4 separate regions of the Homo sapiens genome follow, and regions 1, 2 and 4 are each reported to be linked to region 3. The links are microRNA targets in miRTarBase. Many come from high-throughput screens and were not tested one by one. Region 3 holds a microRNA gene; each other region holds the end of a gene's coding sequence.

Evidence for each region. The annotated mature microRNA hsa-miR-941 reads CACCCGGCUGUGUGCACAUGUGC and lies in region 3 at 2,913-2,935, shown strand. An mRNA with a match to its seed (bases 2 to 7 or 8) in the 3' UTR can be bound and repressed. Matches are read on the target gene's strand: a 7mer-m8 pairs with bases 2 to 8, a 7mer-A1 pairs with bases 2 to 7 and ends in A, and an 8mer does both.
Region 1: the mRNA of CKS1B is a reported target of hsa-miR-941. Seed matches in the 3' UTR shown: 7mer-m8 at 1,482-1,488.
Region 2: the mRNA of PFN1 is a reported target of hsa-miR-941. The part of its 3' UTR that is shown has no 7-base or 8-base seed match.
Region 4: miRTarBase lists GTF3C1 as a target of hsa-miR-941. The part of its 3' UTR that is shown has no 7-base or 8-base seed match.

Annotation. Positions count from the first base shown.
Region 1 is chr1:154,977,646-154,984,759 of GRCh38, forward strand. CKS1B (CDC28 protein kinase regulatory subunit 1B) reads left to right here. Exons shown (of 3, transcript NM_001826.3): 2 at 342-469; 3 at 1,080-1,606. The coding sequence ends at 1,132. FLAD1 (flavin adenine dinucleotide synthetase 1) reads left to right here and starts at 5,699. Exons shown (of 7, transcript NM_025207.5): 1 at 5,699-6,421. The coding sequence starts at 6,050. RefSeq lists enhancers at 3,754-4,351, 4,952-5,549 and a silencer at 5,432-5,611.
Region 2 is chr17:4,940,063-4,947,177 of GRCh38, forward strand. It overlaps PFN1 (profilin 1), which reads right to left. Exons shown (of 3, transcript NM_005022.4): 2 at 6,566-6,758; 3 at 5,590-5,935. The coding sequence ends at 5,838. It overlaps RNF167 (ring finger protein 167), which reads left to right and starts at 206. Exons shown (of 10, transcript NM_015528.3): 1 at 206-298; 2 at 425-931; 3 at 1,015-1,095; 4 at 2,279-2,404; 5 at 2,515-2,602; 6 at 2,789-2,879; 7 at 3,117-3,222; 8 at 3,364-3,457; 9 at 4,496-4,576; 10 at 4,653-5,160. The coding sequence starts at 848. The coding sequence ends at 4,954. RefSeq lists enhancers at 34-103, 984-1,113, 4,150-4,693, 4,328-4,377, 5,248-5,297 and 3 more and a silencer at 456-650.
Region 3 is chr20:63,916,695-63,923,809 of GRCh38, forward strand. MIR941-3 (microRNA 941-3) reads left to right here and starts at 2,867; the gene lies at 2,867-2,938. All of the region lies in intron 1 of DNAJC5 (DnaJ heat shock protein family (Hsp40) member C5), which reads left to right. It overlaps LOC124904951, which reads left to right and starts at 1,065. Exons shown (of 1, transcript XM_047440634.1): 1 at 1,065-3,741. The coding sequence starts at 2,706. The coding sequence ends at 3,644. MIR941-1 (microRNA 941-1) reads left to right here and starts at 2,755; the gene lies at 2,755-2,826. It also overlaps MIR941-2, MIR941-4 and MIR941-5. RefSeq lists an enhancer at 3,060-3,762.
Region 4 is chr16:27,455,026-27,462,120 of GRCh38, forward strand. It overlaps GTF3C1 (general transcription factor IIIC subunit 1), which reads right to left. Exons shown (of 37, transcript NM_001520.4): 37 at 5,588-6,537. The coding sequence ends at 6,325. Among named protein-coding and RNA genes, the nearest start is that of IL21R-AS1, 5.2 kb to the left of the region's middle. RefSeq lists an enhancer at 2,027-2,076.

The DNA.
Region 1 (7,114 bases), not on the chromosome of region 3:
CCTTCCTTCTAATTATTAACACTGTGTGCTCCGTGGGGCTCCCATTATGTTGTAGATAATCAACTAGAAGACTATAAGGTCCATGAAGGCGGAGAAAATGTGCCTTGAACTTAAGTGCTCATTCACTGGAATTATTCACTAATTTGTATTTTTAATATACTCTCGGAATTTATATAACATAGCCTGTATTTCTAGCTGCTGCTACCCCACAATAAAATTATATAAACTCTGACATCAAAAACCAGTTTTTCTTTCCTTTCTTGGCCTTGTAAACAGGCATTTGTCTAAGAGACTGTATCTGGTACTAACATAAATTCCCCACTTCCCCGTTTCTGTTACAGACATGTCATGCTGCCCAAGGACATAGCCAAGCTGGTCCCTAAAACCCATCTGATGTCTGAATCTGAATGGAGGAATCTTGGCGTTCAGCAGAGTCAGGGATGGGTCCATTATATGATCCATGAACCAGGTCAGTGCACTGGCTAAAAACAACCATATAGAACTGCTACACTGAGAGAATGAAAGAATAAGATTGTATAACCCAAATAGGGAGATAGGAAATGGTTTACTGGTTCCTTCCCCCTCCAGTCGTGGGGGATTTTTTTAAAAAAAAACTAGTGACCAAAAATAAGACTAAAATATCTGGGAAGTTCAGAGACAACCTGTCACTGAAAAACCTCCTGTAATCTTTCATTCAATCAGAGGGTATTCTTTTTAAGGCCACATATAGCCTGATCATAGCCCCTGCCTCATTCTCCATCGAAAACATTCTTGGATGTGTTCTAAATAAGCAAAGGAAAGTATATTTATTGATAAGACACCAGACACCCAGCTGCCAGGCAAAACTAATAAGGGACACCCTGGGGCTGTATAAACATAGCAAAAGAACTGATATTAACAATTCTGTACTTGGCAGACAGTCCAGACTTCTGGGTCTGCTTCTAAGGCCATATGCTTAAGTCTTTATTTAGTTATAAAGATCTGAGTGGGTGATAGCTGGGGAGGTGGTAGTGGAATACACTATAGGTTGTACATAGAATGGTGTGAGCTTGTCTCTTAGATTTCCCTCACTCTTTCAGAACCTCACATCTTGCTGTTCCGGCGCCCACTACCCAAGAAACCAAAGAAATGAAGCTGGCAAGCTACTTTTCAGCCTCAAGCTTTACACAGCTGTCCTTACTTCCTAACATCTTTCTGATAACATTATTATGTTGCCTTCTTGTTTCTCACTTTGATATTTAAAAGATGTTCAATACACTGTTTGAATGTGCTGGTAACTGCTTTGCTTCTTGAGTAGAGCCACCACCACCATAGCCCAGCCAGATGAGTGCTCTGTGGACCCACAGCCTAAGCTGAGTGTGACCCCAGAAGCCACGATGTGCTCTGTATCCAGAACACACTTGGCAGATGGAGGAAGCATCTGAGTTTGAGACCATGGCTGTTACAGGGATCATGTAAACTTGCTGTTTTTGTTTTTTCCTGCCGGGTGTTGTATGTGTGGTGACTTGCGGATTTATGTTTCAGTGTACTGGAAACTTTCCATTTTATTCAAGAAATCTGTTCATGTTAAAAGCCTTGATTAAAGAGGAAGTTTTTATAATCTAGTGCTGTAATTGTACGGGTTTTTTCCCCCTCACTCAGGGTGAGCATCATCAATATCATGGTTCTAATTATATGCCCTTCAGTTTGATAATGAAGCTCAGCTCTTTGCTGATAATGAGGTTTAACATTGAGATAACTGGTTTTTAATCTACTTTAAGCAGACTTGCTGTCAAACATCTACTGAAATATATTTCACTCTAACTACTAGCCTGAGGTAGAGGTTATATAGGGACAACTTCATCTCATCCAAACAAATGAACTGCTTCCTACAGTCGGGGTGCTGCCTTTAACATAGTCCCAATATTTGAATGGCACACATGGATAAAAGGATGCTGTCAGTCAGGGGCTGCTTGTGTGTCCCAATTCCTAATAGGAATAATAGGCATATCTATGACCTATTCACTGTGCCCCTTGGTTGGGGAAGGTTTTCAGCTGTTCTTAACTTGGCTTGGGCGTTGGAATCACCTGGGGAGCTTTACAAGTACTGATGCCTGCCTGAGTCATTCTTAAGGATTCTTAATTGGTCTGGAGTGTGGACTGGGGGTAAAGATTTCAGGCATCTTATGCAGGTAGGTAAAGAACTAAGCTTTGAGAAAACAGGTGCAAAATGTAGCTGTTTAAGAAAACATTCCAGGCCACACGTGGTGGCTCACACCTGTAATCCCAGCATTTTGGGAGGCTAAGGAGGGCAGATCACTTGAGGTCAGGAGTTCGAGACCAGCCTGGCCAACATGGTGAAACTCCCGTCTCTATTAAAAATACAAAAATTAGGCTGGGTGCAGTGGCTCATGCCTGTAATCCCAGCACTTTGGGAGGCTGAGGTGGGTGGATCACCTGAGGTCAGAAGTTTGAAACCAGCCTGGCCAACATGGTGAAACCCCATCTCTACTAAAACAAAATTAGCCGGGCGTGGTGGCACACGCCTGTAATCCCAGCTACTCCGGAGGCTGAGGCAGGAGAATCACTTGAACCTGGGAGGCAGAGGTTGCAGTGAGCTGAGATCACGCTATTGCACTTCAGCTTGGGCAACAAGAGTGAAACTCTGTCTCAAAAAAATAAAAATAAATTAGCCGGGCGTGGTGTGTGCCTGTAATCCCTGCTACTCAGGAGGCTGAGGTGAGAGGATCGCTTGAACCCGAGAGGCAGAGGTGAAAGTGAGCCAAGATCACACCACTGCACTCAGCCTGGGCGACAGAAGCTGTGTCTCAATTTAAAAAAAAAACATTCCACAGAATAATAACTTCCCCTCTAGTCTAACAAAACAGTAGTACTAAGTGGCCGGGCGTCGTGGCTCACGCCTGTAATCACAGCACTTTGGGAGGCCGAGGCTGGCGGATCATGAGGTCAGGAGATCGAGACCATCCTGGCTAACATGGTGAAACCCTGTCTCTACTAAAAATACAAAAAAATTAGCTGGGCAAGGCGGTGGGCGCCTGTAGTCCCAGCTACTCGGGAGGCTAAGGCAGGAGAATGGCGTGAACTCGGGAGGCGGAGCTTGCAGTGAGCCGAGATTGCGCCACTGCACTCCAGCCTAGGCGACAGAGCCAGACTCCGCCTCAAAAAAAAAAGAAAAAAAAATACTAGTACTAAGTAAGGATATTAATCTCCCCCATTTTTCCTGTCTTCCATCCACTTATTCCTAAAATAGCAGGCATCAACATCGGGAAAATTCATTAGAAATGCAAATTATTGGGCAACAACCTAGACCTACTGAATCCTAAACTCAGGATTGGGCACAGCAATGTTTTAACAAGCTCTCCAGCTGATTCTGATGTACACTTAAGCTTGAGAATCCACTAGGAAAATACTGGAACAGTCTTGGTATTCTGTTTTGGGAGGGGATCAAATATCACCTGTATTGCTAATAAAGATATTGGAACATGTGGTTTACTAGGCAAGTGGAATTCTTGTTTTGCCCTTTTTTTTTTTTTCAAAGAGCTGACTTTTTATAATTGAAAGAAATGAGGGCCAAGTACGGGGGCTCACACCTGTAATCCCAATACTTTGGGAGGCCAAGGCAGGGAATCACTTGAGCCCAGGAGTTCAAGACCAGCCTGCGCAACATGACCAAACTCCGTCTCTACTAAAAATACAAAAATTAGCCAGGCATGGTGGGGCGCCCCTGTGGTCCCAGTTACTCTGGAGTCTGAGATGGGAGGATCACTTGAGCCCAGGAGGTCGAGGCTGCAGTGAACGGTGCTTGCGCCACTGCACTCGAGCCTGGGCAACAGAGAGACCCTGGTTCAAAAAAAAAAAAGGGAGGGGGGGCTTATTACTTAAAAGAATGGTCTAGACACCTGATCACCTGGGTCCACCATTCACTGTGTTTTGTGGTTGTGTGGCATCCCTTCACCTTTCTGAGCCTGTTCCTCATCTGTAAAATGAGCATGATGTGTATCTTACAGGGTATTTTTTTTCTTTTTGATGGAGCCTCGTTCTGTCGCCCAGGCTGGAGTGCAGTGACACAATCTCGGCTCACTGCAAGCTGCGCCTCCCGGGTTCACGCCATTCTCCTGCCTCAGCCTCCTGAGTAGCTGGGACTACAGGCTCCCGCCACCACGCCCGGCTAATTTTTTGTGTTTTTAGTAGAGACGGGGTTTCTCCATGTTGATCAGGCTGGTCTCCAGCTCCTGACCTCAGGTGATCCGCCCGCCTCGGCCTCCCAAAGTGCTGGGATTACAGGCGTGAGTCACCGCGCCCGGCCTTTTTTTCTTTTTTTCAATTGAGAGAACTCAAGCAATCCTCCCTCCTCAGACTCCCAAAGTGCTGCGCCCGACCAAGGGTTTTGAAGAGTAAAATTTGGCAAGGTGTGGTTTACCAGTCCTACAAAGAATGAATTCGGCCCGGCGCGGTGGCTCACGCCTGTAATCACAGCACTTTGGGAGGCCGAGGCGGGCGGATCACGAGGTCAGGAGATCGAGACCATGCTGGCTAACACAGTGAAACCCCGTCTCTACTAAAAAAAAAATGAAAATAAAAAAATTTTTAAAAAAAAGCCGGGCATGGTGGCGGGCGCCTGTAGTCCCAGCTACTCGGGAGGCTGAGGCAGGAGAATGGCGTGAACCCGGGAGGCGGAGCTTGCAGTGAGCCGAGATCGCGCCACTGCACTCCAGCCTGGGTGACAGAGGGAGACTCCGTCTCAAAAAAACAAAGAATGAATTCGGGCCCTTACCATTCAAAATGTAGTCCATAGAGCAGTGGGATCACCATCACATGGGAACTAGCTAAATGCAGATCTCAGGCCCCACCCAAACCTACTGAATCAATCTGCATATGAAAAGATCCCCAGATTATTGTTGGAAAAAAGTTTAAGATGTACTTTTAGAACAAAGGCAACTGAAATGGGGGTAAGCTCGGATGATGTGAGGATCCAGAGTAAACATGTAAGGCACTCCCTATTCGCTGCCTCATTTGCACCTACAAGACCAATTACTGGGAAAGGTCATTTGAACTAAGCACCATCTGGAGCAAGGTGGAGGAAGAGAGGGTTTTTGGACTCTTTCTTGTCAAAGAGATTTAAGTAATTCGTTTTGTCTACTATACTAGAGATAAATTAAGGTTCCACACATCAAAAGCTCACCTACTCCAGGGTCTTCATATCCGACAGACAGTGGTAATAATCTTTCTCGGTGTCCCTCCAACTTCCTTCTGCTATAAATAAGATGCTTTCTCACTCCAGTAAAAGCCCTTAGCCTAGTGTTAGAGTCACGGTGAATGAAAACAGCTTAAACCATGGCTAACTGACCCATTAAACAAAACAAAACAAAGCAACACATGCATAACAATTATTTGAATCCAGCACCAGAAACTCCCCGAGGGCCTTACAGCACCTTTAACTACGGCTCCTTTCCCGCCCTAAACTCCCGAGGTCCCGCCCCCGACCGTGGGCTAAGGTCCGGCCCCCGTATTTCCGGGCGAGAAGTGACCACGTGGTTGTCGCCTATAACAATCCGGCCCTGCTCCCATCCACTGGCTAAAGCCTGAGAGCGACAGTTGAATACACCAATGGGACCCTGGAAGAGTCTAAGCGACAGCCAAAATCACCATTCAATGTCAGCTAGGTGCAAGGCGGGACTTTAAGTACGGAAGCTGCCCCGGGACATGAGGAAAGGAACAAGGGAAAGAGCCGGTGAAGGGGCAGAACAGGCAGGTGAGAGTCTAAGAGGGCTCAGTAATCTGAAGCTTGGTGGGAAGAAGGGATTCTGGGCTAGAAAGGGTGCAGAAGCCTGAAGTAGAAAGAGACGGGATTTTGGTCCGGGGTGGAGAGCGAATGCATTGAAAAGGGCCAAGGCCCAGGATAAGGTAGACATTTAAAGGGGTACGGATGCCCAAGGTAGAGCAGACACTTGAGGAGACCAGCTCAGCAAACGGAAGACACTTAAAGTGGTAGGTTCTCAAGAGAGAAGAAGTTTTTAAGACTAGAGCTAAGCAAGACATTTAAAAGGACATGGGTTGGGATTTGGGAACACGTTTATTCCAGAGGCAGGAACAAAGGAGTCGCTTGTCAAGGATCTGGTTAGAGAAGACTAGGGTCTTCCTCGAAGGAAGCACGCGCACGCCTGCTCTCCCCCATTGTCTTTTCTGGCTTCTCCAGGTTCCCTCGACCCAGGACCCCCTGTTCCCAGGCTATGGCCCCCAGTGCCCTGTAGACCTGGCAGGCCCCCCGTGCTTGCGACCCCTATTTGGGGGTCTGGGTGGCTACTGGAGGGCCTTGCAGAGGGGCAGAGAAGGCAGGACCATGACATCTAGGGCCTCTGAACTTTCTCCGGGGCGCAGCGTGACGGCTGGCATCATCATTGTTGGAGATGAGATCCTTAAGGTGTGTCTGGGACAGAAAAGGGGGGAGGGCGCTGCGTTCTCCTGTCCTTAAGGGCCTGCTGCACATCCCTCCATGGAAGGAGGTGAAACAGGGTGGGAGCCTCTTTGCTGCAGTAGGATCCTGGAGTGAATCCAGCATATTGGAGGAAAATTAACCCTCATTCTTTCAATTACTCTACTGAAAAACTTGTAGCAAAGTCCCTACAATTTTTCAACCTGAGAGAGCTGATTGAAAAAAAGAAAAATAAAAAGGTCATTGCAATTTACCAAGCAGTATGGTAGAGGGCAGAGGAGCTACACAACAATGACAGGAAGCCCCTCGAGTAGAGGAGGTACAGGTGTGTGTATTGTATATTTAAGAGTTTTGGCCGGGTGCGGTGGCTCACGCATGTAATCCCAGCACTTTGGGAGGCCGAGGCGGGTGGATCACGAGTTCAGGAGTTCGAGACCAGCCTCAACATGGAGAAACCCCATCTCTACTAAAAATACAAAATTAGCCAGGCGTGGTGGTGCATGCCTGTAATCCCAGCTACTTGGCAGGCTGAGGCAGGAGAATTGCTTGAACGTGGGAGGCGGAGGTTGCAGTGAGCTGAGATCGTGCCATTGCACTCCAGCCTGGGCAACAAGAGCGAAACTCCGTCTCAAAAAAAAAAAAAAAAAAAAGAGTTTTACCCAGCCTTTTTGGAAATGACTC
Region 2 (7,115 bases), not on the chromosome of region 3:
CGCAGCGCAAAGGCGGCCGGGAGTAAGGCGGAGCTGAAGGAGGAGCTTGATGGAAGCGTGCGAGAAGGGGCGTAACTGATTTGGAAACCAGAGGAAAGGCGCTGTTTTCACCGAATTAGAATCGCGGGAAAATAGAGAAGAGTTTGTTTGAAGGTCTCGCGAGATCGAGTGAGTACGGCTCGCCAAGTTGGAGCGCTCTCGCGATAGACACAGCAACTATTCAGCTGCGAGGGGACGGGAGAGGTGGTGAGCACTCTCGCGAGATTTGAAGGAGCGGCGGAGGCCAGAGGGAGGAGAGGTTTGTAAACTAGGAGGCTCCGGGTTTCCGGGCACTTTTATTAGGTCGTCTTCTGGGCCACCAGTGCCCCTTCCATCTCCACAGGCAGTCCCTCCATCGCTAACCTTTTTTTAACCGGCCTTTTAGGACCGGAAGTCCTTCATCTCAAGCATCCAATGCTGAAAGCGGCCTGATTTTCTCTACCGGAAGCCCTTTTCCAGAGGCTGGGAACACGGCCCACCTAGCAGGAAGTCCCACCTCCTTGAGCTCCGCCACCCTTCCCGAAGTTTTTCTGTCACCTGTGTTAGGCTCCGTCCCCTTTCCGCGTTTTATCCCCGTACCAGAAAAGGATACATTTAGTGCCTCCCACCCAGCTCCACTAAACGGGTTGGATATCTCATTCTTTGAGTTGGTGTTCCTTCCCCGGCGCCCCCATGTAGCTGGGAAGTGGGACCTGGGGGTGGTTGGACCCCTGGGATCCTAAAGGAGGGGCAGGGAGGGCGCAGAACTCCGCTTCTGCTCCTTGCTACCAGGACGCGCGGCCTCCTCAGCCTCTTTCCTCCCGCTGCCATGCACCCTGCAGCCTTCCCGCTTCCTGTGGTTGTGGCCGCTGTGCTGTGGGGAGCGGCCCCGACCCGGGGGCTCATTCGAGCGGTGAGTCTGAGGGACGGATGGGGAAAGGGCGCTGAAAGGAAGGGTTGCAGGCTGAAGGGGAACATCGCCTTTTTTGTCCGCAGACCTCGGACCACAATGCCAGCATGGACTTTGCAGACCTTCCAGCTCTGTTTGGGGCTACCTTGAGCCAGGAGGGCCTCCAGGTGATTTTCTTTCTTTTCTTTTCCTCCTTCCCTCCCTTCCTTCCTTTTCTGTCTTTTTTCTTTTTTTAGTATTTCGCAAGATCCTCCATCCTAGGCTGGGGTTGGGGAGGTTTGTCCTGGGTGAAACTGGAGGTAGGAAAATGAAGTTAGGAACTGAGCACGTCTAGTGTAGAACCCAGAATCTAGAGGGAGAAGACAGAGTGTCCACCCCTGGAACTCCGAGGTTATCAGGGAGACTGAAAGTGGACGAAGACAGAAGGCAGGATCAACGGTCCTTATCAGGAAGGTCTCAGGTGCTAGTTATTGCTTATATGACTTTGGGCAAGTTAATCTCTCTGAGCCTTAGTTTGTTTTACTGTAAAATGGGATATTAGAAGTTTTCCTAGGGTTATTGTGAAGATCAAAGTAGATACGCAATTTTGGTAGTATTTCATCCCAAAGACTGCCACATAGCAAGAACTCAGTTGGGCCTTAGTAGCAGTCGAGTTGTTTGTGAGATGGGTAATTAGAAAATTGAAGAGGCCGGGCGCGGTGGCTCACATCTGTAATCCCAGTTCAAGACCAGCCTGGCCAACATGGAGAAACCCTATCTCTACTAAAATGGCAAAAATTAGCTGGGCGTGATGGTGCACGCATGTAGTCCCAACTACTTGGGAGGCTGAGGCAGGAGAATCACTTGAAACCGGAAGGTGGAGGTTGCAGTGAGCCGAGATCGCGCCACTGCACTCCAGCCTGGGTGACAAAACGAGACTCCATCTCAAAAAAAAGAAAAACAAAAAGAAAACTGAAGGGAGGGGAGTGTGTCTGTATGAGTATGTGCTGGAGAGGGGACTGTGAAACAGAACTTGAGAGAAAGTGACATGGGTGGTTTGAGAATTGAATTACAATTGGAATATTAGAAGGCAAAAATAATTGCATTAGCTTGCAGTATAGGGTACAGATTAGCCCATCTGGGACAGCGAGAGGGATGATGGGAGAGTTTGGTGAAGGGATGTTTTATGTCATTGCCTTTTCAAGAGGCTAAGAGAAGGTTGTGATGGTGGGATGCTCACTCAGACCCCAGGAAGGAGGAGGAAGTGAGGATAGAGGATGTGCAGCATGTGGGCTGGTGTGTTTGGTGGCCCCTGTAGAGAGCAGAATCTAGAAAGGAGAAATCTCACTGTTGTTTGCTTCCATCCTTCAGGGGTTCCTTGTGGAGGCTCACCCAGACAATGCCTGCAGCCCCATTGCCCCACCACCCCCAGCCCCGGTCAATGGGTCAGTCTTTATTGCGCTGCTTCGAAGATTCGACTGCAACTTTGACCTCAAGGTTGCTGAATGAGGAAGGGGAGCTGGGCAGCTGAGGGTAAAAAAAAGGCACCAGGAATGAAGACAGGTAAGGCCCATGATGGCTCCTTGTCCTCTGCCTTGTCTCCCTAGGTCCTAAATGCCCAGAAGGCTGGATATGGTGCCGCTGTAGTACACAATGTGAATTCCAATGAACTTCTGAACATGGTGTGGAATAGTGGTAAGGCTGGGGGAATCTATACAGCTGGGCTTTCAGTAGGACCCAGAGATGGTGGGAAGGCTGAAGGCCTCAGGAAAAGAAGCCAATCCTTTAGGTGGGGTGGGGCCAAAGTGCAAGATGCCAGGGTTCCCAGAGGATTTGAGTAGAAGGTTGTGAGTCCCCAGAGTAACACCTTGATCCCTGCAGAGGAAATCCAGCAGCAGATCTGGATCCCGTCTGTATTTATTGGGGAGAGAAGCTCCGAGTACCTGCGTGCCCTCTTTGTCTACGAGAAGGGGTAGGACATGTGCCTCCTTCCCATTCTTCCTTCAGCAAGCAGTTCCATGCCAACCTGGAGCCCAGGCCTCCTCATTACCCGAACCATTCAGCCTCCTGTCCTTCCTTCCCTGCCTCTTTGACTTTCTTCCCATTCCTGTCCCCACCTATGGGCTTTGTCCAGAGCCAGTTACTTTGTCCCTCTTTTTTTCTCCCTTTGCCTTTCTCGCCCTGCTGAGACTGGTCATCCTTTTCCCAGGGCTCGGGTGCTTCTGGTTCCAGACAATACCTTCCCCTTGGGCTATTACCTCATCCCTTTCACAGGGATTGTGGGACTGCTGGTTTTGGCCATGGGAGCAGTAATGGTGAGTAGCTGAGGGAACATGATGGGAAGCACTGAGGCCTGTGAGGCCAGACTGGATCTGGAGTTGGGAGATGGGAGTGGCTTGTCCTAGATTGTCTAGTTTTGTTCCTAAGCCTTGTCCATCCACCCCCGCTTCCCCCAGATAGCTCGTTGTATCCAGCACCGGAAACGGCTCCAGCGGAATCGACTTACCAAAGAGCAACTGAAACAGATTCCTACACATGACTATCAGAAGGGTGAGGGGGTTAGGGGAGAAGAGGGCTTTTCCCACAGTTTACCTGGTTCTGAAGGACTTTGAGCCCAGAAGATAGGGTATACAAAGATGGCAGTGGCCGGGCACAGTGGCTCACGTAATCCCAAGTGCCTCTAATCCCAGTACTTTGGGAGGCCAAGGTGGGCAGGTCACTTGAGCCCAGGAGTTTGAGACCAGCCTGGGTGACATGATAAAACAGAAAAGTCCCAGCACTTTAGGAGGCTGAGGCAAGTGGATCCCTTGACCCCGGGAGTTCAGGCCAGCCTGGGCAATGTGGTGAGACCCCATCTCTATAAAAAAATAAAATTAGCTGGGCATGGTGGTGTGCACTTGTAGTCCCAGCTAATTGGGAGACTGAGACAGGAGAATCACTTGAACCAGGAAGGCGGAGGTTGTCGGGGGCTGAGATTGCACCACTGTGCTCCAGCCTGGGCGACAGAGGGAGTCCCTTTCTCAAAAAAATAATAATAAAAATAAAGATGGCAGTAGGAAGGTTTCAGCTTGAGATGCTGTCTTTTCTTCTGTTTTTATGCATAAATACAACGAAGACGGGAGAGGAGATGGAAAGCAAAGATGATTAAGTGAAATAATTGTGGGAAACAATAGAGGGATAGACTTTGCTTATAGGGGATGTGGACAGAGCAGAAAAATGGGAGGAATGGGGAGGATTCAGTTAGAGAAGGAAGAAACCGGTACCAAGGGGCTGGGGCTTTAGGCCCTGGGGCCTCCAGTGCCCGTATAAGGCTGTGGCAGAAGCCCTGCCCATTTCCGTTCCTTCCACTCCCTATCTCCACCCTCACACCTCCCCAAAAACCCACTTCCCTTCTTACCTCTGCTTCTCTTTGCTTGTCCCTTCTAGCCCTAAATTCTTCCATGTTCTGCCCTGACCTTATCCTGCCTACCTGTCTTATCTCTTCCACTGGCTTTGTAGGTGAGGGGAAATTTTTGCAAGGCTTTAAAAGCCTTAGCCCTGGGTCATTGTGGCTCAGTGAAGGACTAGATTATTTTCTTTCTGTCCCAGGAGACCAGTATGATGTCTGTGCCATTTGCCTGGATGAATATGAGGATGGGGACAAGCTGCGGGTACTCCCCTGTGCTCATGGTGAGGCCCTCACTGCCTGCCCATGCCCCTCTGCCACCAGCAGCCACCAGGTGCTTCACCTTGTTCCTCTCTGCAGCCTACCACAGCCGCTGCGTGGACCCCTGGCTCACTCAGACCCGGAAGACCTGCCCCATTTGCAAGCAGCCTGTTCATCGGGGTCCTGGGGACGAAGACCAAGAGGAAGAAACTCAAGGGCAAGAGGAGGGTGATGAAGGGGAGCCAAGGGACCACCCTGCCTCAGAAAGGACCCCACTTTTGGGTTCTAGCCCCACTCTTCCCACCTCCTTTGGTTCCTTAGCCCCAGCTCCCCTTGTTTTTCCTGGGCCTTCAACAGATCCCCCACTGTCCCCTCCCTCTTCCCCTGTTATCCTGGTCTAATAACCCCCCACACATACACCTCTGGTGACCTATTTGCACAGACCGTCGTCTTCCCTCCAGTCTTCTGAGGGATAGGGGACATTCCATCCCAAGCTTCTCCCTTACCCACACCTATCCTTTTGAGGGGCTTTGGGGTGGAGCTGGGGCAAGCAGAGGGACTGGGTCTTCACTTCTTGGGCTAATAAAATTGTTTCTTTGTGGACTAAGGAAGGGTAAGATCATTCTCACACAGGTGAACTTAACCCTTTGGTGGAATCACCCCTTTAGCCATAAGGAGCAAGGGAATGCTGAGAGACACTAACCTATAGTCATGGGGACAGCCCCAGCCGGCATTTGCTATGACTCAGAAGGGGGAGCCCCACCCACAAGGATGACTCAACTAGCCCTGCCTTGCCTGCAGGCCTGCACCCATTCTCTGGTCCAGATGGCTCTATTCCATCATCCACCAATTTGACCAGCACACTGAGGACTTAGGCCTGGAAATGCCACTGTGGAGGGGCAGGGCCACCTGGCCAGAAGCTCAAATTCCTGCACCTTGTAGTACCTCAACCTCCCTGCTCCCAAGCCACGATAAAGGAGGCAAGTCACAGTGCCTATCCCCCATTCTGACACCCAAGCTCAAATCACACAGCACCTTGTTAGTAGAATCTTTTTTATTCAGAAAAAAAAAACCCCAAAAAACAAAAGTTTTCCAACCACACACGGGAGGGATATGGGTAGGGGGAGGTGTCTGTCCATCCAGCCCTGGCCCCCAGCCCATGTGGTTTTGGCAGCAATAAGGGGTATGGGGTAATGGCCCAAAAAATAAAATGGTTTGTGTGTGTATGGGGAGGAAAGGGGTGCAAAGCTGTGGGGAGCGGTGAAGGGGAAGGGACAGACGAGGTCAGTACTGGGAACGCCGAAGGTGGGAGGCCATTTCATAACATTTCTTGTTGATCAAACCACCGTGGACACCTTCTTTGCCCATCAGCAGGACTAGCGCTGGAGGAGGAGGAAAGAGAAAGGAGGCTAGGATCCAGGTGTCACAATTCCACCCCCTGCCAGCTGTTCAGCAGCTGTCCAGCCCTGGGGGCTGTAACCCAACCTCATCTCTCCCAACCCGCCCCCCCACCACACACAGGCAGGCTGTCAGTCACCCTGAAACAATAAGGCTTTTCAAAAGAGGAAAATCAAGCTTAAACGCTGGAGAGGAACAGACTAAAAACTTAGGGGTCAAAGGCTCATAGACTGTTGATTCATGTGTTCAGGCTAGAAAGGGCTGTGGATGTGCATGCCACCTCCAGGTTCTAACAAAAGAACTCAAACGATGAACTCGATGATTCAAGACCCCAACAATCTACCTATACTCCTAGAAAACAGTTTCTAATCCGAGCTCAAGGCAGTAAGTAATTTAAGAGGTAATGCAGTTCAGCAACTTCGAATTACAAGATGAGGAACTGAGACAGAATGGAGGGACTATCCCGTGTTCCAGCATCCAGCAGACAAGGAACACAATACTGGTCTGACTCCCTTCATGTTGGGGAATCACACAAAAAAGCACCCTCAAGATTACCAGAAGGCGGTACATTAGAGATCTTGGAGCTAAAGGAAGGGTAAGACTCAGGAACTCACTCTTGTCAGTCTTGGTGACAGTGACATTGAAGGTGGGGGCCCCACCGGTGCTCTTGGTACGAAGATCCATGCTAAATTCCCCATCCTGCAGCAGTGAGTCCCGGATCACCGAACATTTCTGGCCCCCAAGTGTCAGCCCATTCACGTAAAAACTTGACCGGTCTTTGCCAACCAGGACACCCACCTCAGCTGGCTGGAAGAGGAACCAAGCGCCCATCAAGTTAGTCAGTGCACCAAGATTCCCACCGTGTTCTCCAAAGACCCACCTGTCTTCCACTTCTGAGAACCACCCCGCCGTGGGGGCTAAGTATAAATTATATACTCAGTACACATCAATGAACTGTGAGAAACTCTGAGGACTGTGGGACGTTAGTGCAGAAAAAGATCATGATTCTGAAACTTAGAATATGGAACCAGGGAGGAAGGGATGACATACTCCTCTAGAGATTTAGATGTCAGTGTTAATGGGGAAAGTAAACCCAGGAAATAAAGGGAGTCAGTGAGGTAAGTGAGGAGCCTTTGGATGCTCAGAACTCTCCTTCAGGAAAAG
Region 3 (7,115 bases):
GAGACCAGGGCGTATTTCAGTCCTTATCTCAACCACATAAGACAGGCACTCCCAGAGCAGCCTTCTGTAGACCTCCCCCCAGGAATGCATTCCTTTCCCAGAGTATTAATTCTTGCTAGGAAAAGAATTTAGTGATATCTTCCCTACTTGCACGTCCGCTTATAGGCTCTCTGCAAGAAGAAAAATATGGCTGTATTTTGCCTGACCACACAGGCAGTCAGACCTTATGGTTGTCTTCCCTTGTTCCCTGAAAATCACGATTATTCTGTTCTTTTTCAAGGTGTACTGATTTCATATTGTTCAAACGCACGTTTTACAGTTTGTACAGTTAACACAATTATAGTGGCCCTGAGGTGATGTACATCCTCAGTTTATGAAGATAACAGGATTAAGAGATTAAAGTAAGACAGGCTTAAGAAATTATCAAAGTATTATTTGGAAACTGGTAAATGTCCATGAAATCTTCACAATTTATGTTCCTTTGCCACAGCTCCAGCCGGTCCATCTGTTCAGGGTCCCTGACTTCCCACAACACCTGGCTTCTATTACTTTTTTAAAATTAGCTTTTTTCTTTTTTTCGAGATGGAGTCTCACTCTGTTGCCCAGGCTGGAATACATGGTGTGATCTTGGCTCACTGCAGCCGCCGCCTCCTGGGTTCAAGCGATTCTCTTGCCTCAGCCTCTCGAGTAACTGGGACTGCAGGTGCAATACAAAAAATGCAGAACTTTTGTATTTTCTGTAGAGATGGGGTTTCGCTGTGTTGTCCAGGCTGGTCTCAAACTCCTGAGCTCAAGTGACATGCCCACCTTGGCCTCTCAAAGTTCTGGGATTATAGGCATGAGCCACTGCATCCAGCCTTATTATTATTATTTTTTTTTGAGATGGAGTCTTGCTCTGTCGCCCAGGCTGGAGTGCAGTGGCGCGATCTCGGCTCACTGCAACCTCTGCCTCCCGGATTCAAGCGATTTTCCTGCCTCAGCCTCCTGAGTAGCTGGGACTACAGGCATGCGCCATCACACCGAGGTAATTTTTGTATTTTTTGGCAGAGACAGGGTTTCACCATGTTGACCAGGCTGGTCTTGAACTCCTGACCTCAAGCCATCTGCCCACCTTGGCCTCCCAAAGTTCTGGGATTATTTTTTAAGCAGTTTTGATAGGTGTGTACCTAGTAGTGCTCTGTGGTTTAATTTGCATTTCCCAGGGAGTGGGGGCACTGCCTGTCTTCTCACGCCTCAGTTGCTTGTTGCTGTGACGGTCGCCCACTCCTCCTGCCAGTGTCTGTGCTGCTCACGGTAGCTGCATCAGCTTCACGCTGTCCGCCCTTCGCCACCCACCGCGCCTGCTGCTCAGGAATGTTCCAAGCAACTTGGTGGTAACAGAAGCTGAGAACAGCCCAGATGTCCTTCGGTGCAAGAGTGGATGGATCAGTTGTGGTCTATTCACAGAATAGAATGTGACCACACTGGAGATGAATGAATTGTAGCTACAATCTGCAGTGTAGACGAATCTTAGGAACGTAGGCGTTTCAGAAGCAGATCAAGCCAGGCACGATGCTGTGTGCCTATAGTCCCAGCTACTCAGAGCCTGAAGGTGGGAGATCACTTCAGCCTGGGAGTTTGAGGCCAGCCTGGGCAACATAGCAAGACCCTGTCTCAAAGGAAAAAAAAAGCAGATTACAGAAAAGTAAATCCAGTGCTAGGCCGTATTTTTAAGCTCAAAAAATTAAAACTAATTAGCGTTTAGGGATAAACATGAGGTAATTTTTTAGAAGCAAGAGAATAGCATTGAATTTAAGGTATATATGGGGAAAATGAAACTTCCAAGTTATTGATAATTTTCCAGTTTTTAAATTAGAGACGGGATCATGGTGTTTATGCGTCATAATTTATATGTTCCATATATTTTTTGTTGTTTTTTTGAGACGGAGTCTCGCTCTGTCACCCATGCTGGAGTGCAGTGGCGCGATCTCGGCTCACGGCAAGCTCTACCTCCCAGGTTTACACCATTCTCCGCCTCAGCCTCCCGAGTAGCTGGGACTACAGGCGCCCACCACCATGCCTGGCTAATGTTTTTGTATTTTTGTAGAGACGGGGTTTCACTGTGTTAGCCAGGATGGTCTCGATCTCCTGACCTTGTGACCCGCCCGCCTTGGCCTCCCAAAGTGCTGGGATTACAGGCGTGAGCCACCACGCCCGGCTGATATGTTCCATATATTTCTTTCTGTATTTCACATAATACATAGTAAAATATTTAAAACAGAACAAAAATAGACTTCCTTTTAAGATGTTTTCATATCTGTTCTTACAAAGTTGGCCACAGTTTTTCCCCAACAGTAGTTTGAGTTCAGCAGCAGCTCTTTTATAAAACGTTTGCTGCACACACTGAGATTGCACCTGGAAGTACAGAAATAAGAACACACGTATTTTATTTTATTTTTTTACCCCTGAAGATCTTTAAGTCTTCTGAGGAGCATGGACCTGCTAGACTGCAAGCTGCTGCATTCTGAGGAGCAGGGACCTGCTAAACTGCAAGCTGCCGCAGGCGGAGATTTTTGCCTGTTTGGTTTATTTTGTTACCACTGAGTCCCCAGCTCTGAGAACAGAGCGAGGCATGTGATCGATGCATCGTAACTGTTGAGCAAATGAATGCTGAGCTGTGATGGCACCGACGTGTCCGGGGAGAGGACGCACCCGGCTGTGTGGACATGTGCCCAGGGCCCAGGACAGCGCCACGGAAGAGGACACACCCGGCTGTGTGGACATGTGCCCAGGGCCCGGGACAGCGCCACGGAAGAGGACGCACCCGGCTGTGTGCACATGTGCCCAGGGCCCGGGACAGCGCCACGGAAGAGGACGCACCCGGCTGTGTGCACATGTGCCCAGGGCCCGGGACAGCGCCACGGAAGAGGACGCACCCGGCTGTGTGCACATGTGCCCAGGGCCCGGGACAGCGCCACGGAAGAGGACGCACCCGGCTGTGTGGACATGTGCCCAGGGCCCGGGACAGCGCCACGGAAGAGGACGCACAGGACAGCGCCACGGAAGAGGACGCACCCGGCTGTGTGCACATGTGCCCAGGGCCCGGGACAGCGCCACGGAAGAGGACGCACCCGGCTGTGTGCACATGTGCCCAGGGCCCGGGACAGCGCCATGGAAGAGGACGCACCCGGCTGTGTGCACATGTGCCCAGGGCCCGGGACAGCGCCACGGAAGAGGACGCACCCGGCTGTGTGCACATGTGCCCAGGGCCCGGGACAGCGCCACGGAAGAGGATGCACCCGGCTGTGTGGACATGTGCCCAGGGCCCGGGACAGCGCCACGGAAGAGGACGCACCCGGCTGTGTGGACATGTGCCCAGGGCCCGGGACAGCGCCACGGAAGAGGACGCACCCGGCTGTGTGGACATGTGCCCAGGGCCCGGGACAGCGCCACGGAAGAGGACGCACAGGACAGCGCCACGGAAGAGGACGCACCCGGCTGTGTGGCAGGGGAGGTTCCCAAGAGCAGGCTCAGGGCTCTGGGGTCTGAGTGAGGGCTCTCCAGCCAGCAGGGAGCAGGGCAGGGTGTTGAAGAGACGGCAGGTGCGTCAGGGGCTGACGTGGGACCCGGCACTCTGTGCTCTGTGTCTGCCCGGGAACAGGTAGTCCTGCGTCGGACCGGGAAGTGTGGTGGGTGTGGTGGGGGAAGGGGCTGGCGTCAGCAGGGCTCTCGTCCGCCAACGTCTGGTGGGGATGCCCGCCATGCGGGGGCCTCAGGCTACAGCCAGGGCTGTGAAGGAGCCGAGGTCATAGAGTGGCTGCCCTGGCGTAGGGAGGGAGGACACGGGTCCCCGCCATTTCAGAAGCTCAGCGTCCCTGCACGTGTGCGGTCTTGTCTGCCTAGGCATGTGTGCGGGCCCTGGGGCTGCTGCCAGCAGAACGGACTGGGATACGCTGGATTTGTAAAACGTGACCCTTTTTGTTTGCTTTTAATTTTTAATTTTTATTTATTTATTTATTTTTGAGACTGAGTCTGACTCTGTCACCCAGGCTGGAGTGCAGTGGTGAGATCTCGGCTCACTGCAACCTCCCCCTCGAGGGTTCAAGCGATTCTCCTGCCTCAGCCTCCTGAGTAGCTGGGATTACAGGTGTGTGCCACCACACCCAGTTAATTTTGTATTTTTAGTAGAGACAGGTTTTCTCCATGTTGGTCAGGCTGGTCTCGAACTCCTGGCCACAAGAAGCAATCCACCTGCCTCAGCCTCCCAAAGCCTTGTTTGCTTTTTTTTATTTTGTTTTGTTTTGAGACGGAGTTTCACTATTGTTACGCAGACTGGAGTGCAACGGCACGGTCTCAGCTCGCTGCAAACTCCACCTCCCGGGTTCAAGTGATTCTTCTACCTCAGCCTCCTGAGTAGGTGGGATTACAGGCATGTGCCATCACGCCCGGCTAATTTTGCATTTTTAGTAGAGATGGGGTTTCTCCATGTTGGTCAGGCTGGCCTCAAACTCCTGACCTCAGGTGATCCGCCCTCCTCAGCCTCCCAAAGTTTTGGGATTACAAGCTTGAGCCACCGTGCCCGGCCACCTTGTTTGCTTTTTAAAGATAATGATGTCACTAAAAGAGTTCTGACTGAGGCCGGGCCTGGTGGCTCACACCTGTAATCCCAGCACTTTGGGAGGCCGAGGCTGGTGGATCACGAGGTGTGGTGATCAAGACCATCCTGGCTAACACGGTGAAACCCCGTCTCTACTAAAACTGCAAAAAATTAGCCGGGCGTGGTGGCGGGTGCCTGTAGTCCCAGCTACTCAGGAGGCTGAGGCAGAAGAATGGCGTGAACCCGGGAGGCGGAGCTTGCAGCAAGCCGAGATAGTGCCACTGCACTCCAGCCTGGGAGACAGAGCGAGACTCCGTCTCAAAAAAAAAAAAAAAGAGTTCTGACTGAAGGTTGGAACTTAGCCCTCCAGAAATGAAGACTGCGAATAACGCTGATGGCAGCTCGTCACTTGCAGCAGGTTGCAGCACGTGCTGCTCGTGTAGCTGCGGCTGCACACCAGGCCTCTCCTTTAACTGTGTTATAACCTTTCTGTTGACATGGGATCCCCTTGAAAGTTTTTTTTTTGGAGACAGGGTCTCACTCTGTCACCCAGGCTGACGTCCAGTGGTGCAATTTCAGTTCACTGCAACCTCCTCCTCCCGGGTTCAAGCCATCCTCCTGCCTCAGCCTCCCAACTAGCTGGGATTACAGATGCACACCGTCACACCCAGCTAATTTTTGTATTTGTAGTAGAGATGAGGTTTCACCACGTTGGCCAGGCTGGTCTCAAACTCTTGATCTCAGGTGATTCAACCACCTCAGCCTCCCAAAGTGCTGGAATTACAGGCGTGAGCCACCACTCCCGGCCCCCTTGAAATTTAAACCAAGTTTAGGAAGAATGAAGTTGTGAGGTGCTACTTCAAACATCAGGTGGCAAACTCCCGGACTCATTACCCCAAGGAAATAGGCAGTCCAGGTTGGTGGCTCACGCCTGTAATCCCAGCACTTCGAGAGGCCGAGGCAGGCGGGTCACCTGAGGTCAGGAGTTCAAGACTATCCTGGCCAACATGGTGAAGCCCATCTGTACTAAAAATACAAAAAAATTAGCTGGGTGTGGTGGCGCGCGCCTGTAATCCCAGCCACTTGGCAGGCTGAGGCAGGAGAATCGCTTGAACCTGGGTGGTGGAGGGTGCATGGAGCCAAGATTGCACCATTGCACTCCATCCAGTTTGGGTGACAGAGTGAGACTCTGTCTCAAAAAAAAAAAAAAAATAGACATCAGAAAGGGTTGGCTCCTGTGATCTCGGCACTTTGGTGACCATGACCCAAGGCAGGAGGATCACTTGAGCCAAGGAATTCAAGATCAGCCTGAGCAACATAGACCCCGTCTCTGCAAAAAATTTCTAAAAACTTAGCTGGCATGGTGGCTCACGCCTGTAGTCCCACCTATTCAGGAGGCTGTGTTGGGAGGATCACTTGAGTCTGAGAGGTTGAGGCTGCCATGATCCCTTATCACACCACTGCATTCCAGCCTGGGTGACAGAGCAAGACCCTGTCTCCAAACAAACAAAAAAGCAAAAAATGGTGTTTTACCTAGGTATTTACCATTTCCAGTGGTCTTCATTCCTTTCTAAAAATCTAGGTTTTAGCCGGACATGGTGGCTCATGCCTGTAATCCCCAGCACTTTGGGAGGCTGAGGCGGGTGGCTCACCTGAGGTCAGGAGTTCCAGACCAGCCTAGCCAACATGGCAAAACCCAATCTCTACTAAAAATACAAAAATTAGCCAGGCGTGGTGGTACGTGCCTGTAGTCCCAGCTATTCAGGAGGCTACGGCAGGAGAATCGCTTGAGCCTGGAAGGTGGAGGTTGCAGTGAGCTGAGATTGCACCACTGCACTCCAGCCTGGGCAACAGAGTGAGACTCTGTCTCAAAAAAGAAAAAAAAAAGAATAAGTCACATTTTGGTGAGGAGCAGTGGCTTGCACCTATAATCCTGGCACTTTGGGAGGCTGAGGCAGGAGGATCACTTGAGACCAGCCTGGGCAACAAAGCCAGACCGTGTCTCTATAGAAAATTTTAAAGTTAGCTGGGCATGGTGGCACATTCCTGTAGTCTTAGCTGCTTGGGATGCTGAGAAGGGAGGCTTTCTTGAGTCCAGGATTTCAAGGCTGCAGTGAGCCAAGATCGCACCACTGCACTCCAGCCTGGGCAACAGAGAAAAACCTTGTTTCTAAAAAAAAAAATTAGGCTGGGTAGGGTGGCTCACACCTGTGATCCCAGCACTTTGGGAGGCTGTAGCAGGCGGATTGCTTGAGTCTGGGAGTTTGAGACCAACAAGATCCTGACTCTATAAAAATTTTAAAAAATAGCTGGGCGTGGTATTGCACACCTGTAGTCCCAGCTACTCAGGAGGCTGAGGTGGGGGGATCAGCTGAGCCCAGGAGGTCAAGGTTGCAGTGAGCTGAAATGTGACCACTGCACTCCAGCCCGGGCAATAAAGTCAGGCGGGGAAAAGAAAGAATGAGTTAACATTTTCTCAGCTTTATGTGTTGAGTGATTTTGGATTCTATCCTGAAATGGTAAGAATGAAAAGAAAATC
Region 4 (7,095 bases), not on the chromosome of region 3:
TTTTGTTGTTTGGTTTTTAGACAGAGTCTGACACTGTCACCCAGGCTGGAGTACAATAGCGTGATCTCTGCTCATTGAAACCTCCGCCTCCCAGGTTCAAGCAATTCTCCTGCTTCAGCCTCCTGAGTAGCTGGGATTATAGGCACGTGCCACCACACTTGGCTAATTTTTGTATTTTTAGTAGAGACGGGGTTTCACCATGTTGGCAAGGCTGGTCTCGTACTCCTGACCTGAAGTGATCTGCCCGCCTCAGCCTCCCAAAGTGCTGGGATTGCAGGCGTGAGCCACCACGCCCGGCCAGAGGTGCGTTGTCTTTCTATCATCACCTTGAGCTAGGCTCCAGGTCAGAGGAGAAGAGGGCTGTGGCCCCAGCCCTTCCCAATCTCCTTCCCAGAGAGTTCATAAATGCTTCCCTCCAGATGCCTTGAAGCTTGCACTGCTTTCTGCTGGGATTCAACGAACACATAACCCCAGCTCTCCAACCATCAACAGTTCCTGCGAGATCTCAGCCTGGGATGCTGTCTGGGGGTCCCAGATGCTCTAACAAGGGAAGGAGACAGAGGGAAGTGAAGGCCCAGAAAAAGGCAGTGATTTGCCTGGAGTCCATCATGCTCTGCCCCATTCCTGAGCTCCTTTTGGTCCCCCCGCTGGAGGTGAAAGCCCCTTCCTCCCTCCTATCTGGGGATGTTGTTTGCCTGAGCCCGGCTGCTGGCCCCATGGTATGGCACAACCCTGCACAGCCCACCCAGTCCCAGGGCACCGGTGGAACCCAAGAAGGGGACTTCCGGTGGAAGATGGAGCAGTGAGCACGTGCACTGCCCCTCCCAGGAGCCCATTCCACTGACAGTAAAGGAAGCAGGCGCTTCCTTTAAACTCTCGACAGGAAAGAAAGCAGGCGCTTCCTTTAAACTCTCGACAGGAAAGAACAAGGAGAGGACTTGTCTGCCATCAGGAAACACCCACGCATTCGTGTAAGATGAGAGGATGGAGTCAAGTCTGCTCGGACGTCACCTTCTCCACTCTGGGTTGGGTCCTTTATTCAAAGTGCAACACCCCACTGCCTGGTTTTGTTTTTTCCATCACACTTATTATACCTTCTCATACATTTGTGTTATTTATCCATCATATTTACTGTCTATCGCCACTACAGCAGGGATCTAATTCTCCGCTGGGTCTCAGAGCCTAGAATAGTGCCTGGTATAGAGCAGGTGCTAAAAAATATTGAATAAGTGAATGAATGAATGAATCAATCAATGGTAGAGCAGTGACTGGCAAAGCAGTATGGAGAGAGGAGGCAACCATCTGCCCCAGACCTAGAAAGGGCACAGAATGAGGTGTGGAGATGAAAACAGGCCGCCTCCTGGGGAGTCTGTAATGAGAGCAAGAGCCCTTCCTTCATTGCTCAGACCATGGGGCAATCATAGGTCTTCCCCCTGTGTCTAAGGGTGACAAATGTGAAGGTTCTTTCAAAAATCGATGGCCCCAGGCCAGGCGTGGTGGCTCATGCCTGTAATCCCAGCACTTTGGGAGGCCGAGGTGGGTGGATCACCTGAGGGCAGGAGTTCGAGACCTGCCTGGCCAACGTGGCAAAACCCCGTCTCTACTAAAAATACAAAAATTAGCTAGGTGTGGTGGTGGGCGCCTGTAATCCCAGCTACTCTGGAGGCTGAGGCAGGAGAATCACTTGAATCCAGGAGCCGGAGGTTGCAGTGAGCCGAGATCGCACCACTACACTCCAGCCTGGGCGACAGAGTGAGACTCTGTCTCAAAGAAAAAAAAAAAATTGATGACCCCAGATAAGAAACCCTTTCATCCTACTCTTTAGGGAGTCTCCCAGCACAATGCTGGCTCCCCCCCCACCCCAAAACAAATCCCATCCCTGGAAGGCGGTGTGATGGGGAGGTCCCTGAGGCTGGCAGACTGGGAATACCAGCAGATCCGCTTTCCAGCCTCCAGCCCTGTGGACATGATTTTACCTCCTGCACCTCAGCTTCCTCATCTATGAAATGAGTATACTGATCAGGCAGACGTCTTAGGGCTATTGTGGGGCCAGAAGTTAATGTGTGTAATGTGCCCAGAACAGTGTCTGGCATCTGGCAGATGCTCAGGAAATCTTGTTGCTAGGATATCATCCATTTTATGGATAAGTCATGCCCTGCCCCAGTCAGTTCTTACTGGCCTCACCCTGGAGCCTGTATGGACCAAGAGCACCTGACATTTGGAAACCAAGGCGAAGTAATGGGAAACAGAGACGCTTGGGTGGCTGCTGCCACCTGCTGGTAAGCACTGCAATATGCAGGTGTCGGCTGAAGGCAGTGCCCGCTCGCTCTGCTGTCCAGGGGGAAAGGGCCACAGAAGTGCATCTGCCTGGCGCTTATAAAGGGGACCCTGGACAATCACCACAGCAGCCCTCTGCGGTAGAGAATACGGGCGATGAGGACAGGGTGAACTGGCAGGGGTTTGCTTAATTCAACAAAGGCTGACTTCTACCCTTTGGGTGGATGGACCTGCGTTGGGCATTGGAGGTAAGGAGGGAGACTCCACGCAGGCACATACATGCACACTCACACACACACATGCCCACACACAAATACATACATACACAGCATGTATGTGCACAGATACACACATTCGCGACTTCAAAACGTTTGTGGAGGCCGGGCGCGGTGGCTCACACCACCAACATGGAGAAACCCCGTCTCTACTAAAAATACAAAATTAGCCGGGCGTCGTTGCGCATGCCTGTAATCCCAGCTACTCGGAATCTGAGGCAGGAGAATCGCTGGAACTCGGGAGACGGAGGTTGCAGTGAGTCCAGATCACGCAATTGCACTCCAGCCTGGGCAACAAGAGCGAAACCCTGTCTCAAAAAAAAAAAAAAGAAAAGAAAAAGAAAAAGAAAAAAAAAAAGTTCATGGAAAATGAATTCAAAGATTAAAAATAAGAAACAAACTGTCTTTCTCAACATAAGTTCCATCAAGGTCAAGACACTTTGGTGGGCGATGAGACCAGCCATTCAGCCCCTCCCTGAAAAACTGAGGGTCCTGGGAATTTTACCATGGCAATGCCATCTTTTTACATTATTAACTGAAGAAAAGTGCCCTTTAAAGTTTTTTTTTTCTTTTTTAGGAAACAAAAAGAAGTCAGAAGGAGCCATATCAGGACTATAAGGTGAGTGCCTAATAATTTGTCATGGAAACGCTTGCAAAATTGCCCTTGTTTGATGAGGAGTGAGCAGGGGCATTGCTGTAGTGGAGAAGGACTCTCTGGTGAAGCTTTCCTGGGTGGTTTTCCACTAAAGCTTTGGCTACTTCCTCAAAACACTCCCATAATAGGCATGCTGATGCAGATGTGCCAGGGGGTCGGTGAGTGAGCCGTGCTGAGGGCGTGTTTTATGTTACAGGCCCGGGCTTCCCAGGGCGTGCACAGACAGATATGGATGGAAATGGGAAGAGGGAAAGTGGGAGGGGCCCTGAAGGAGAGGGGCCCACAGGCTTTAGCCAGATTTGAAATGTTGTATTTAACAGACAATGCATTCATGTATTTGCTTATCTAAGAAAAAGAAAAAAGAATTAAGAGTGAGGAGGGCAAGACTGGGGGGTATATGGAAGCTGGGGACACAAAGCCAAGGTGTCCGGGCCTCGTGCAGGTGCCCATCTGGGCTGTGCATTCCCTGGCCTCTCTGCAGGAGACCAGGAGCCACCACCTAGCACTGTTCTGGCAGCTGCAAAAGGGCCAGAGACCCATTTTTGCCCCTTCGTAGGTTTTGTTTGGTAGTTAGTGCTTAATGTTTCTTTCAAATTTGCATTCCTTCACAGCCTGGGCATACACATTTTAGTTTTCCACAGTTGCTATCACTCCCTAGTATTTAACCCAAGGCCCCTTTCCTCTCATTTGTTACCTGCCTGGCCCCTGAAGGCATCTCAGCTCACAACTACTGGTCAATGCTGTGGCTTCTGGAGATTTCTGTGCAGAGCTTGGAGGGGCAGAGAGCTGTCTTGGAAGGATGGATGGATGGATGGGTAGATGGATGGATGGACAGATGAATGAATGGATGGGTAGGTGGATGAATGGACAGATGGACAAATGAATGGGTGGATGGGTAGGTGGGTGGATGGATGGATGGATGGACAGATGAGTGGATGGATGTGTAGATGAATGCACAGATGAATGGATGGTGGGTGGATGGATGGGCGAATGGATGGATGGATGGATGGATGGATGGATGGGTAGGTGGATAGTTGGGTGGATGGATGTGCAGATGGATGGATGGACAGATGGGTGGGCAGATGAGGGGCTTCATGATGGGTAGGAGGGAGGGGAAGAAGCAACAGATTATCCTTGGGCAGAATGGGGATGTGGACTGGTGTTCACAGAAGCCCCATTTCACCATCTGAGAGCTGTCCCCACCATCCCTATGTCCCATCTCCCAACACATGCCCACACTCTCCATCATCTGGGAGGCACAGGCAAAGAAGGAAACTTGCTGAACCCGACTATGCACTTGCATCCGGTGCTCTTCAGCTCATCTGGCCCTCCCTTGAGGGAGATACTCTTCCCCCAGTTTTCAGACGACAAAACGAAGGCTCTGAAATGTGAATGCAGGGTCAGTTTTTTAGGAAACACTTACTGGATTCCCAAACCTTTCTTCCACCATGCCACACTTTCCCAAATAATTAGTATTTGTACAGTATTTTATTTATGAAGCAGACCACATCCACTATTCTACTTGATTGCCTCAAAAAATCCCATAGAACACTATTGTTTCTACACTTGAATGAAACTTTAAAGGGAAAAAAAATAGACACTAAGACCTGACCAGGCTAGGCAGTGCGGGGACTCACTCTCAGGACTCTGACTCCCAAGTCCCTGCCTTTGTCCCTCCTCATCCAGAAGTGTGGCCCAGAGTGACCAGGGCCCTGGTCCCTCGTAGAGGGAGGATGGAGACATAGGTTGGAAGGTGGGTCAGGTCAGGGGTACATGTTCCCCAGAGGGGACACTTTTCTAGGTGAGAGAAGCTGCAGGTGGGTGTGAGACACAGCTGGCCAGGTCGGGGCACATCCCACCTAGAGGGAGTGGCCTCTGCTTAGCACTTCTGACTGCCACAGGCAGGAAGCTAAGCCCATTGTTACTGGAACTTTCCATTTTAAGAGAAGACAGAAATCTGAATTTTTTTTAAAAAAATGTGAACTCTACATTTTAAAAATGTTGGCAACTAACTTAAAAAAATGTAACAATGTGAGCTCAAGAGAACTTCAAGGGGCCAGACCCATCCCGCAGGCCCTGCCAACACCAGCTGTGCTGAGCTGAGCTGATCGTGGGCCTGGCACTGGGCTGGGAGCTGCTCTGTGGGGGACAGGCCTGGGACCAGCTGAGAAGGTGGTGAGGGAGCTGCCTGTGCCCCTCTCCATCCTGGAGGCCATCTCTCACCTGCTGGCTGAGGCTGGGCGGGGCTGCCGAGCTTAGGATCAGGGCCTTCCCTCTTCCTTTGGTTTCAATGGGAACAGCCATTCCAGGTTGTTCTGCAGCCAAAGCAGGGAGTCCCCTAGGGGAATCACTGATTCTTTAGGAAACACACAAAACAGAATGCATTTTACTTCCCTTTAATCAAAAAATAAATAAGTACACTCCACAGGGACTTTTTTTTTTTAATGAGGAAAAAAGGTGAAAGAACAAAATAAAACAAACAAAACCAAAACCTACAGGGACTCTTCATTTCTGGCCTGCAAGGAATCACCAGCCAGGCTGAGGGACACGGACAGCCAGCCCAGCTGGGGCCTGCCAGGTGACTCACAAGGCTGAAAAGGGAGCCGCTCCGCTCTGGGTGGTTCAGTCCCAGCCAGGGGTTGGGATGTCCTGCCTGCGGAGGGGCCACAGCCCCCATGGGGGGCCCCTCGCAGCGGGGCACACCGATCCCTATTCTGCAAGGTGTATCCCACAAGGCCCTTCCTCTTGGTGGCACCTGGGCACTCAAGGAGCCAGGAGATCCTGCCGAGATGGCTAGAGTCTGGAATGTGAGGTGTGCACAGGCGGGGCAAACTCTGGAGACCCAGAGACAAGAAGCACCAACTCCCAGTGTGATGAGGCCAGTTCCCAAGGGGAAGGCCCAGAAGAGCCTGGGGGATGGGCAGGTCGGGGAGCCCCTCTTTCCAGAGTTCCAGTACAGTGGGAAACGTGTCAGTCTGTGACTCTGGCCAAAGCACCCGTCCCCTGCTGCAGGAGGCTCGGCAGACCCAAGGCCAGGGCACAGTGGGGTCTGCCGAGCACCAGGCAGGAGTGGTGTGGCAGGCGGTGGCTGGGAGGGAGGGGACGCCCACAGGGGTCCTAGAGGTGGATCCACTTGTTCCAGTTGACCTCGTGGGGGAACACACGGCCCAGCCGGAGGGTACAGTCCAAGGTGGGCTCATAGAAAGCCATGGGGCTCTCGTCCAGGCTGGAGGGCACTTCCACCTCTTCCACCACGGGTGTAGAGAAGAGCGAGACAGGCCTTGGCTTTCTCAGCCAGCGCTTCCGGATGCAGCCGAGGGACTCCAGGCCCTGGAGACACCAGACACACAGGTTACAGCGGCACTGCCCTCGCCTGCTTGTTGATTTATTCTTCAAGCATTTATGGAATGCCCCCTCTGTACCAGGGAGCCACTTCCCAGAGCAGGGGGCACCTGAACTGGGCATGAGGCAGATGGGGATGTACCAGGAGGGTTCAGGCAAAGGCCCTGGTGGGAGAGGCAGCTGCCTGAGCAGCACGTGTACAGCGCTGGCTGGAGCCACCACGCTGAATCTCATTTGTGGAGGAGAGGCCTGCAGCGCGGGATAAATCCCAGCTTCCTGTGAGCCAAGACTGGCTTCCAGGTGGGGTTTTGTTTGGCTCATGGGGAATTTGACACTCAACTTCAAGCTCCTAGCTGCCAGAGGAGCTGGAGGCCCCAGGCACACATGGGAGTCAGCCAAGCAGGAAGCAGCTGCACCAGGGGGCAGCTGCTTGACCCGTGGGGCCCGGCGGACTCATGAGTTAGTGACCCCTGGCACAGAGAAAGCATCAGAGACAAGCACCCCGGGCACCCCATCTTCCAGCCTGGTCAGCAGCATGGAGCTGGT